2 separate regions of the Homo sapiens genome follow, and region 1 is linked to region 2. The links come from fine-mapping of genetic effects on gene expression. A gene starts in region 2. The other region holds a variant in brackets. All regions are shown on one strand. Distances are between the middles of the regions. Region 1 overlaps BCAT1 (branched chain amino acid transaminase 1). Region 2 holds the start of BCAT1 (branched chain amino acid transaminase 1).

Region 1 (5,382 bases), 36 kb before region 2:
CAAACCCTCCCCTTACTCCTGCCATGTCACGTCTCTGGAAAAGTGAGCCATAAAAAAATCTTGACAAAAGAATTCTCATTTGGGCTTATTCAATGCCAAGTCCCATTCAACGAAGTAAAATGAGCAATTCTATGTACTGTGTATGTAGTTACTGTATCATTTGCCTAGGACGGTAGTAACAAAGTGCCACAAACTGGGTAGCTTAAACCCACAGAAAGTGATTGTCTCATAGTTCCAGAGGTGAGGTGTGGACAGGCCCAGCTTCCTTTGGAACCTGTAGGGGAGAATCCTACCTTTCTTCTTCTAGCTTCTGGTAACCCAGGTGTTTCTTGGCTTGCAGCTGCCAACACTTCAATCTCTCCTTCTGTTGCATTGTGTTTTCCCTTCCTGTCTGTCTGCTTCCTGTAACTGCTTTGATTAATGGACTATGGAGAAATATGGAAGTGACACTGTTCTAAGACTAAGCATATACACTAACTGGCCAGGCAGTTTCTGCTTTCTTCCTCTTGGAAGGATCTTGGAACTACCCCACCTAGAACCCAGTCACCCCAGCTATAAATAGCCCAAATCACATGGAGGAGCCACGTGCAGGCTCATTAGTCAACAGTGCAACATCCAGCATCACTGTCAGCCCTGTGAGTGGCTGTCTTAAACATCCAGCCCAGTCAAGCCTTCAGATGATGCCGGCCCCTCATGACTGATTAAAAACACATGAGAGACCATAAGGCTGACTCAGACTGCTCAGCCGGGCCCAGGCAATCTAGAGACCATGAGAGATAAAAATAAATTATTGTTGGCCATGCACAGTGGCTCACACCTGTAATCCCAGCACTTTGGGAGGCCAAAGCAGGCATATCACCTGAGATCAGGAGTTCGAGACCAACCTGGCCAACATGGTGAAACCCCGTCTCTACTAAAAATAAAGGAAAAATTAGCTGGGCTTGATGGCGGGTGCCTGTAATCCCAGCTCTACGGGAGGCTGAGGCAGGAGGATCACTTGAACCCAGGAGGTGGAGGTTGCAGTGAGCCGAGATCATGCCGCTGCACTCCAGCCTGGGTGACATAGCGAGACTCTGTCTCAAAAATAAATAAATAAATAAATAAATAAATAAATAAATAAATAAATAAATTATTGTTTTAAGGCCACAAAGTTTGGGGTGGTTGGTTATATAGCAATGTTAACCAAAGCAGCATGCAAACCTAACATGCTTATTTCATTATTTATTTAAAAACCTAATAATAATAAATCATGCCCAAAAATAGGGATAAAAGGGTGAGATAAACATGAAATAAGTAATCCTTTAAAATATCTTTCTAACTATGGTTATTTTATTGTACCAGCCCTAGCTAAAGGCCCAGTATACACAAGGGCCAAGTAATCAGTAATGACAGTGATACAAATCCTTCTTTTAAAGTCTTCTTGATGATCAAAATTGTGTCACCCACTATTTGTCAGTTCCGATGAAATCATTGTTGTTTTTTTAATCTCATGATATGGTTAATGGAGAACTTATAATAAGAACTGGGGCCAGGCACAGTGGCACACGCCTGTAATCCCAGCACTTTGGGAGGCCAAGGCGGCCGATCACCTGAGGTCAGGAGTTTGAGACCAGCCTGGCCAACATGGTAAAACCCTGTCTTTACTAAAAATACAAAAATTAGCTGGGCATGGTGGCGAGTGCCTGTAAACCCAGCTACTCAGGAGGCTGAGACATGAGAATTGTGTGAACCTGGGAGGTGGAGGTTGCAGTGAGCCAAGATCGCACTACTGACTCCAGCCTGGTGACAGAGTGAGACTGTCTTAAAAAAAAAAAAAAATTGAAAAAATATTAGTTATCATGAAAAACATGACACATTTCCTTGTTTTACATTACTAATATTTTCATTATTATTCTGGCTTTATCCTTTTAAATTTTTATTTATGTTTGTTTAGAGTTTTTTTTGCAGACATCTCTTAAAGCCAATGTCCCTTTTGCAAAGATTATCAGTTAACACCAGATGACATAATCTGTAACTCTCCTTAACCAGGCTCACACAGACCGCCACAAATCACAACCCTCTGGAAGAGAATGAATGCGCAGGGCTACACAGGCAACCCCCTGGGAGCAGGAGCTATGCCCTCCTCTCCCCTCAGGACCCTGCTCGAAGTTTGTGACAGCGTGGCAGGGTGACACACAGAATGAGCACGTGCCAATCTATGTGAGTTAAATACAAATACAGTTTAATCTTTCCCACATGTTAGAGGAAAAATAAACATAAGTTCTTCTGACATTCCAGTGGAGTCTGTTGCATATCTCAATATATACACACCACGATGAAACTCACTCTGCGAGCAGACAAAGTGCAAATTCCTGAGCTTAGTCTGTGGGCTCCTGCACTTGCTGAATCACCTGACTCCCTCTTCCCTCCCCACCCCTCGTCCTCATTTGCACTTCCCATCTTCTTCTGCACAGGGAGGAAACCCTAAGCGTGGCAAGCCTCTAGGTCATCTCCAGGTACCTTAAAAAGGAGTGACAGATGGACAGAGAGACAAACACATGAAGATTCTGGATAAAAAGATTAGGAATTTCATTTCCTGTGTGGAAAACAATTAAGCTTATAATTTTGCGTTTTACAGAAACAGAATCACTTAACTTCTGAAAGGAGAAATTAATCCTAATTAAATGAGGCTGCTTTTTTAAAATCCAGATATTATATACTGGATTGCTTTGGAGAAAATTTTGTTTTATACCAGTACCTAAATAGCTTTTAAGAGTTCAGGTTAACCTATGCTGAGGAAATTAATAGCAAAAAGAAAAGGCCACAATCAAGACGGAAAGGATTTAAGTTTTATTAATGATTATTAAGTGCATTATTTATAGTAGAATCCACAACATATGCTCACGAAAATAAACCAGTTCTAGTAAATACATGATAAATATAAAAAATTAGAAGAGGGCTGGGCGCAGTGGCTCACACCTGTAATCCCAGCACTTTGGGAGGCCGAGGCGGGCGGATCACGAGGTCAGGAGATTGAGACCATCCTGTCTAACACGGTGAAACCCCGTCTCTACCAAAAAAGAAATACAAAAAAATTAGCCGGGCGTAGTGGTGGGCACCTGTAGTCCCAGCTACTCGGGAGGCTGAGGCAGGAGAATGGCGTGAACCAGGGAGGCAGAGCTTGCAGTGAGCCAAGATTGCGCCACTGCACTCCAGCCTGGGTGACAGAGTGAGACTCCATCTCAGAGAAGAGAAATGGTTGATGCCTGACAATGAGCAATATACATACACCCAAAGGAGAAAATGGGGCCGGGCGTGATGGCTTATGTCTGTAATCACAGCACTTTGGGAAGCTGAGGTGAGAGGATTGCTTGAGTCCAGAAGCTTGAGACTAGCCTGGA[C/T]AACACAGTGAGACCCCATCTCTAAAAAAAAAAAAAAAAAATGGAGAACGTGGGTATTTGGGAAGACAGTAATCTTTTGGAAAAAGTGTTTTTCCTATGAATGTGATATATGTTCAAGAAAATAGACTGACTTATCTGATATATACCTTGTGGCAGCAAAGGGAATACTTCCCCATCACTTTCTTCAGAAGGTTGCTCAAAATCATTGACAAGGGGCAGATTAATAGGAGAAAAGTCATACAAATTTATTTGATCATAATTTTATGTGACACGAGAGCCTACAGAACGAAGACCCAAAGATATAAGGGAAACTGTCCATTTTTATGGTGAAACCCTGTCTTTACAAAAATACAAAAATTTTAATGGACAGTTTTTGTTTTGTTTTGTTTGTTTTTTTAAGAGCAAGGAGAGTATGCTTTTTAAATGCCATTGGTTCATGTGCCACAGAACCTAAAACAGCTTCAAATGGACACCAAGTAAAAAATACCAGTTTTCAGAAGTCTGTCATTATGTATTTACACAAATTACATAATCCTGTATGTATTTACAATTACAGATTATCAAGTAGATAACACAAAGTTGTAGTGTTAATGAGACAAAATAGAATAAAAACACCACAAGGAAGCCATTTGCTTATCTACCAAGCAGGACCTAGCAAGGCCGATCCTGGCATGTGCTTCAACATTGCTTGGGGACATTTATGTGACAGATGGGAAGATTTGTTCAGTCTGTGCTAGGTAAGTCTTTGACCACAGTGCAAACGTTGGCACCAAGTAGATGGTAGTTTGGCTGTCTGAGTATCTATTTGTGAAACTGGAACCCCCCTTCCACGATGGCTCAGGGTTGCCATCCAACAGGCTTTGGGCCTTTTACAACAAGAACTGGATGCAAACCCATGAGCTGGGGATGACTCACTCTATTCCCCAACAGACAATGCCCAGGCCAAAACCCTGAGCCCCCTTAGGTTAGGTTAAACAAAGTATGGAGAGCCACGTAGAAATATGATTGGACAAAAAAGGTATGGTCTAATGCTAATAGACTGAGCAGGGAAATCCAGCACAGCCTGTCTGTCTGGACCCTTCTTGCCTCTCTGAGCATGCATTTCTTCCTTCTGGGTGTGGTGCTGGACCCTCTCTGGAATGGGGGTCTTATAACCTTCAGTCAAACAAAGTGAGTCAGATAATTTCTTTATGGCCTTACACAGACAGGCTGGGGGTGGTGGAAGTTAGAGTACTATTTTTAGGTTTTATGGTTGGCTTTGGGGAAAAGGGGTTTTGTTTCTATGGCCCACTTTGGGGAAGAGGGGTTGTAGTCTTGATGGCTAGCCTCAAGGGAGAATGAAAGGTCAGAGACAGGAGAGCAGGAGCCCAACATTCCCCAGTTGAGAAATTGGGTTGGTAGATTATCTTTTTTTTTTTTTTTTGAGATGGGGTCTCACTGTATTGCCCAGGCTAGAGTGCAGTGTCATAATCTCAGCTCACTGCAAGCTCTGCCTCCCAGGCTCAGGCAATCCTCCCACATCCACCTCCCGAGGAGCTGGGACCACAGGCACATGCTACTATGCCCGGCTAATTTTTTATATTTTTGGTAGAGACAGGGTTTCACCATGTTGCTCTGGCTGGTCTCGAACTCCTGAGCTCAAGCAATTTGCCCACCTCAGCCTCCCAAAGTGCTGAGATTACAGGTGTGAACTACTGTGCCCAGCGGGTGGATTATTTTATAAGCCATTGAACTAGTCTTGCAGTCGTGAGAACAGGCCGCTCCAATTAAACGGTTAACAGTTATATCTCATTTCAGGCAGTGGTGTTGCTTCCACCAAAGTCAGGCCTCTATGAATCAAGCAATCAGATGTTTAATAAAAGGCATTTCCATGAAAACAAAAGAAAAACAAAGATTAACATCTGGAGTTGTCTATAAACTAATTTTCCTAGAGTCTCTGAAGTAGCTTCAGATTGCAGTGGCAATCTTACAGATATTTCTGGATTATAGTTTGAATCAGGTG
Region 2 (5,382 bases):
TAGGAGGCAGAGGTTGCAGTGAGTAGAGATCACTCTGCGGCACTCCAGCCTGAACAACACAGTGAGATTCTGTCAAAAAAAAGAAAAGAAAAAAGAATGATAGCATCATATAGAAAGTAGAGGATAGCTGGCACAATTATGTCTATCATGGAAGGTCCCAGATTCTCACTCTCCAGTATAGCAACCAAACCTTCCTGAGCATAAGGCTGATCATGCCACTGGGTTTCCCTGGGGTGGGCATCTGTTATTTAAAGAAACTGTGGTTACCAACACTAAAGGGAAATAAAGAAAGTTCTTTATTTTCCAACTTCCTATACCAGTTGAGAAGAGGCCATTTAAAGAAGCTGGCAACCTGAAACCCCAAAAGATGTAACTAATACAAAGGCTCAACATAGCTGCCATTTAGAAACAATCTTTCATTTATGCACAGGAATAATTTACTCATAAGCCCAGCCCTCTCAGTTAGGTTAATAACACCACTATCAGTTTTCCAGCTGTTTACTTCCCTAGCTTTATTTCTAGACATGAGAAATAAGGAACAAAATATATAATTAGGAAAACAATTGGAATGTCAGCCTACGGACAAAACTGAGACAAAATTTATATAAGTAGAGAGTATATTGAGGTCAAATTTGAGGACTGCAACCAACGAAACACCAAATCAAGTTGCCCTGAATATATACAGCAGTTACAAGTGGGTTTTTAAAAGAAAAAAGAGGCAGTTTCTAAGTTGAGAAGAATTTATATTAAAATAACATAAACTATATAAACTATTGATAGGCTAAACATTGTTTTTTTGTATCACAAATTCCAGGAACATAATGAGTGAGGCAGTTAGTCAGGAACAAAATGTCTTTAAATAATTACTCCTGCGCATGCGTACGGGGGGACGTGACTGAAGTCTCACACTCCTATCTCTCTGGGCCTGATAAATTGTGTAGCCTTCACAAAGCTCAGATCGCTCTGCGCTATTTTTCTTTTTTCAGGGAGTTGCACAGCTACTGACAGAAAGCACATCTTGGTTTTAGTCCATAGTACAAAACTCAATTGTGATCGAATGTTTTCAACTTCCTTTCATAATAAGGTTTTAAACTCATTTCAAATAATTAGATCTGGTTCTAATGAGCTGAAAAGCAAGAGAAATTCTTGCGTAAAAAAGGAAAAATATTTTTCCCCTTTTCTCTCTGTAGTTCTGAAATCCAGTGAAATTACTCATTACTGAAACTTATCAGATGAAAATATTGGCCAGCATTAAATTCTTTTCCTCCCCAACCCCCACCTCTTTTTTTCCTTTTTCTAACCACCACCCTTTTGTTAGGCCAGCTTAACTAGCTTTACATCTCTGAGCCTAGCCTGAGGGGCCACATCCTGTGTCTGGAATGTAAAACCTCTCTCCCCACTAGGCCTCCCGTCTTCCCTCCACACACACACACACACACACACACACACACACACACACACACACGGACTTCCCTTGCCTCCAATCCCATTTACATGTGTATCATTTTTAAATCCCCATCTAAATTTATTAAGTCATAATACTCACTTACCATTTTTGTACACATGCTACTCAGTGTATATCCTATGTTTCTTATCCAAGTTGCCCATTCTGCATGTGTCTGTCTTAAAATACAAGCTCATGCATGACTTAAGCCCGGAGAATTTGCTGAGGACAAAGGCAATCAAGATGCCATGTGCAAATAACATTTTTTTAAAAAATCAAGCTTGTGATAGCAATACATATTTAAGAGATAAGTGGAAAGATGTTTGAAATATTGTGATAAAACTAACTTAATGGAACCTTCCATACTTCTTCGATCATACCTAGAATACAATCATTTCTTTCTTAATCTTAGGAAATATCAGGAAACAGAAAAGAGACTACTTGTAGATATCTTACCTAGTTCCCCATGTTATAAAAGTATCTTGTGGAAGGGACAGGGGTTTTTGGACCTACAAAAACGCGTAATTAACCACAACTGCACATGGACAGGAAAAAGCTGGAAAAGCAAGACTGTTCATTCTTAGTTTTCTCCTTTTACTTACTAAAGCTATAATCAACTAAAGTGTGTTTTTCATCTGAAATGAAACAAGCATGAGGAAGCCAGAAATAGAACCTCTAACTATAGAAGAAAAGTTGTGTGATCTCTGTTGAATACAAAAACGCATAGTTTCCACTCGGTTACTGTTTAATTGTAGTGAAAGTTTTTGTTTGGCAACAAAGGCGCTATTTACATATTATTTCTTCTAAGTGAAACTATGGTCTGGGATGGGTTGTAGATAAGAGCAGTTGAGAACCACGCTTCATCTCCCTCCTTAGAAACTCTGAAACGAGGCTTTATTCCTACCAGAAGTTCAGATTGCATTATGGTCATCTCAATTCCAAAATGTTAGATGGCAAGAATATCTGCCCATCCTTCACTTTCCTTGGAAAAAGTTGCTCTTCGGGTTTTATATGCGATTGCAGTTTTCCAGTGTGTGAAACTAGGAAAACAAAACACTCAACGGTGTACATCCCTACACCTAAATAGTCAGAAATAATAGGCAGCTAGGCTAATTATCCTTGATTAGCAAGATCAGAGCCATTAGGGTGCTCACTGGTTTAACAAATGAATGCCCTTAGGCGTCTATCATTTGTAACTCCTAGAAGCTTTAATTTCCACAAGAAACAAAATAAGAGGGGCCTTCTGCTTTTAACAGTGAAAAGATCGTTCTCCCTCCCCTCTCCACCCGGGTCAACTCTTCCAGCCGCTCCCTCCTGCATCACGAACACACGCTGCAGGAAAGCGCATTTACAGCCCGGGACATCCCCAGACCTCCTCTCCAAAATTCCCCACCTCCTGTGCATAGGAGAAACTGAGAGAAGCCCTCACTTCCTTTCCAAACTTCACAAGCAGGGGAGGGAGCTGTAGCAGACTTTCACCTCCGTTCCCAAAAGCGAATGTGAAAAAGTCCGAGAAGGCACGTCCTGCGAGTGGAGGTTAAACCGAAATCTGAACAGAATGCACGGTCCCCGCAAACTACGATTGATAAAGAAGATACTGAGACGTTTGCGGGGGATATAAGCCATGGTTGTCTCGCCTTCCTCCCCTCCCTGCCAACTATGTTTCTTGGAGAAATCGCCGGTTCGATTCACGCACACATTTTTGTAAAACACGGACAAAACCATAAGTAGTTACCTTCATTGTTCCGTCGGCCACGAGGGAAGCTCGAGCTGAGCGGAGGGCAGATCCCAAGGGTCGTAGCCCCTGGCCGTGTGGACCGGGTCTGCGGCTGCAGAGCGCGGTCCCGGCTGCAGCAAGACCTGGGGCAGTGCCCGAGGCGGCGGCGAGTACACGTGGCGGGCTGGATTGCAGACCGGCCCTCTCGCGGCGGAGACTCGCGACCTAGCGGATTGCATCAGCAGGAAGACACTAAGGCTGCTCCCCCAGGCCGCCCCCAGATGGTGGAGTCTCTCCCAGCCCGAAGATTCGGAGCCAGCGCCCAGACCCGAGCCTCACTCACTGCTCACTCCCGGGGTGCAGGGCAGAGGTGCCAGTGTTGCAAGCAAATGACACGGTTACCCCCGAATCAGCCACTGTGGGTGCGTATCCGAGTGTGGGGATGCCCGTGTAACATTTATATGGAGACGTCAAGGAGGAGGAAATAAACAGATCAGAGGTCAAATGTGATTGCCATTCCGTCATCACTGGCTCCTGCCCACCTCCCTACTGTCCCCAAAGTAACTTTGCTGCATGCTGAGAGGACCACGGCACAATCCTGCCCAAAAGTATACATGTATCCCCCGCGGCTACTTTAAATGTACTTTTGCAGTAGTCAAGAACATGTGCCTGGTTTGCCGATCTCTTTCCCAGAGTTCCTTAGTCACCCTCAAATATAACCATTTTTGCCAATTTATTATGTACATGGGGGAAAATTTTTAATCCTTTAATTTGAGCATATAAAATTCTTTATAATGTGAAATTGCCCAGTAGCCTAGTTGGTCCCCTGTAAGTTCCCTCCCCACATCTATACAAAGCTCCAGGATTGCTACTTTTCCATGTCCAGCGCCTAGGTCAGCCTCCATGACTGCTTAAGTGTGCTGCTGGTTGACCTCCGCTGCCTCTCTGTCAAGCTGGCAAACTCCTATTTTTGTAAATTTCAACCCAAGTCTTTGCTGTGGAAGTTGCTTCCAATGCCCTCAAACAGAACTGGGCCCTTGGTCTATGTGCTGCACTTTGTCCACATCCTTTCTCAAAATCAATTATTTTATTTTATCATTTTTTAATGGAGATGGGGTCTCACTAAATTGGCCAAGCTGGTCTTGAACTCCTGGCCTCAGCAATCCCCTCGCCTCCGCCTCCCAAATTGCTGGGATTACAGATGTGAGACTGTGCCCAGCTTCTTAATTTTACTTTAATTATTTGTTTGCACAGTTGTCACTTCAGTGGATTATGAGATTCGTAAGGGCAGATCCTTTGTCATATTTATCTCCCATACCAAGTGGCCTGCCGTGGAAGAGAGGGAGTGTTGAAAACAAATGTGTCAGTGCTTAATGACTGTTGGTCAGGTGAATGAATGGTTAAATTATGTGTTCAATAAATGTACTGAGTGATTTCTACATGCTAGGCTGGTATATAACAGTGGTTTGTAATCTGAAATGTCTCAAAATGGAGCCATTTATGACAAGGGTTTCAGCCTCCAGTGAAATTGCTGACCCCTCAAATTGATAAGCATATGTATGGTGGACTGAGGTGATAAGATAACACCTGCTGTGGCCTGGCACCATTGGCAAGAGAGTAAAGAGAGAGGCAGCTGAGATAATGGCTATGGGCACTTGCGGATGCTGTGAAAACCAAAAAGTAATGAAAACCTGAAAGTAACTGACCACAGCCAAAATGCTTGCAGAAGTTCTGCCCTGAGAAATCTGTATCTGTAAGCATTTAATCAGCCATTGAGTCCTTGTGAAACCTCCTGGCCCCCGTCAGTGAAAGCACAGCTAGATAGATTTGAACCTGACACTGACATGAGACAGGCAATGTGCAAAATGCTAGGGACTGAGTGGGAAACAACAAAAATGTTCTTACCCTCATTAAGCTCATATACTAGTGTGAGAAACAGAAAGTAAGCTTTAAATCAGGTAGCAAAATGTTTATCAACTGAGGAATGGCTAAATAAAACATGGTATCATCCATACAATGGAATATTATTATATTCTGCAATAAAAAGAAATGAAGTACTGATTACATGCAGTCACATGGATGAACCTTGAAAACTATGCAAAGTGAAAGAAGCGTCTCACAAATGACTACATATTATATGATTCCACTTATCTGAAATGTGCAGAACAGGAAAATCCATAGAGACAGAAAACACATAGTTGTTTTCAATCTGGGGACAGGG

Evidence for each region. PIP is the estimated chance that this variant, and not a neighbour inherited with it, causes the effect. A credible set is the group of variants that fine-mapping cannot tell apart.
Region 1: its variant is the best candidate, but not a certain one, in a credible set for the expression of BCAT1 in whole blood (Lepik 2017, PIP 0.53).

What each region holds. Positions count from the first base shown.
Region 1 is chr12:24,909,297-24,914,678 of GRCh38, forward strand. The region is part of intron 1 of BCAT1 (branched chain amino acid transaminase 1); the gene reads right to left. Among named protein-coding and RNA genes, the nearest start is that of BCAT1, 37 kb to the right of the region's middle. RefSeq lists a silencer at 2,159-2,453. The variant C/T (reference allele first, on the strand shown) is at 3,381.
Region 2 is chr12:24,945,748-24,951,129 of GRCh38, forward strand. It overlaps BCAT1 (branched chain amino acid transaminase 1), which reads right to left and starts at 3,354. Exons shown (of 11, transcript NM_005504.7): 1 at 3,180-3,354. The coding sequence starts at 3,185. It overlaps BCAT1-DT (BCAT1 divergent transcript), which reads left to right and starts at 3,416. Exons shown (of 3, transcript NR_199054.1): 1 at 3,416-3,583. RefSeq lists enhancers at 3,248-3,597, 3,718-3,807.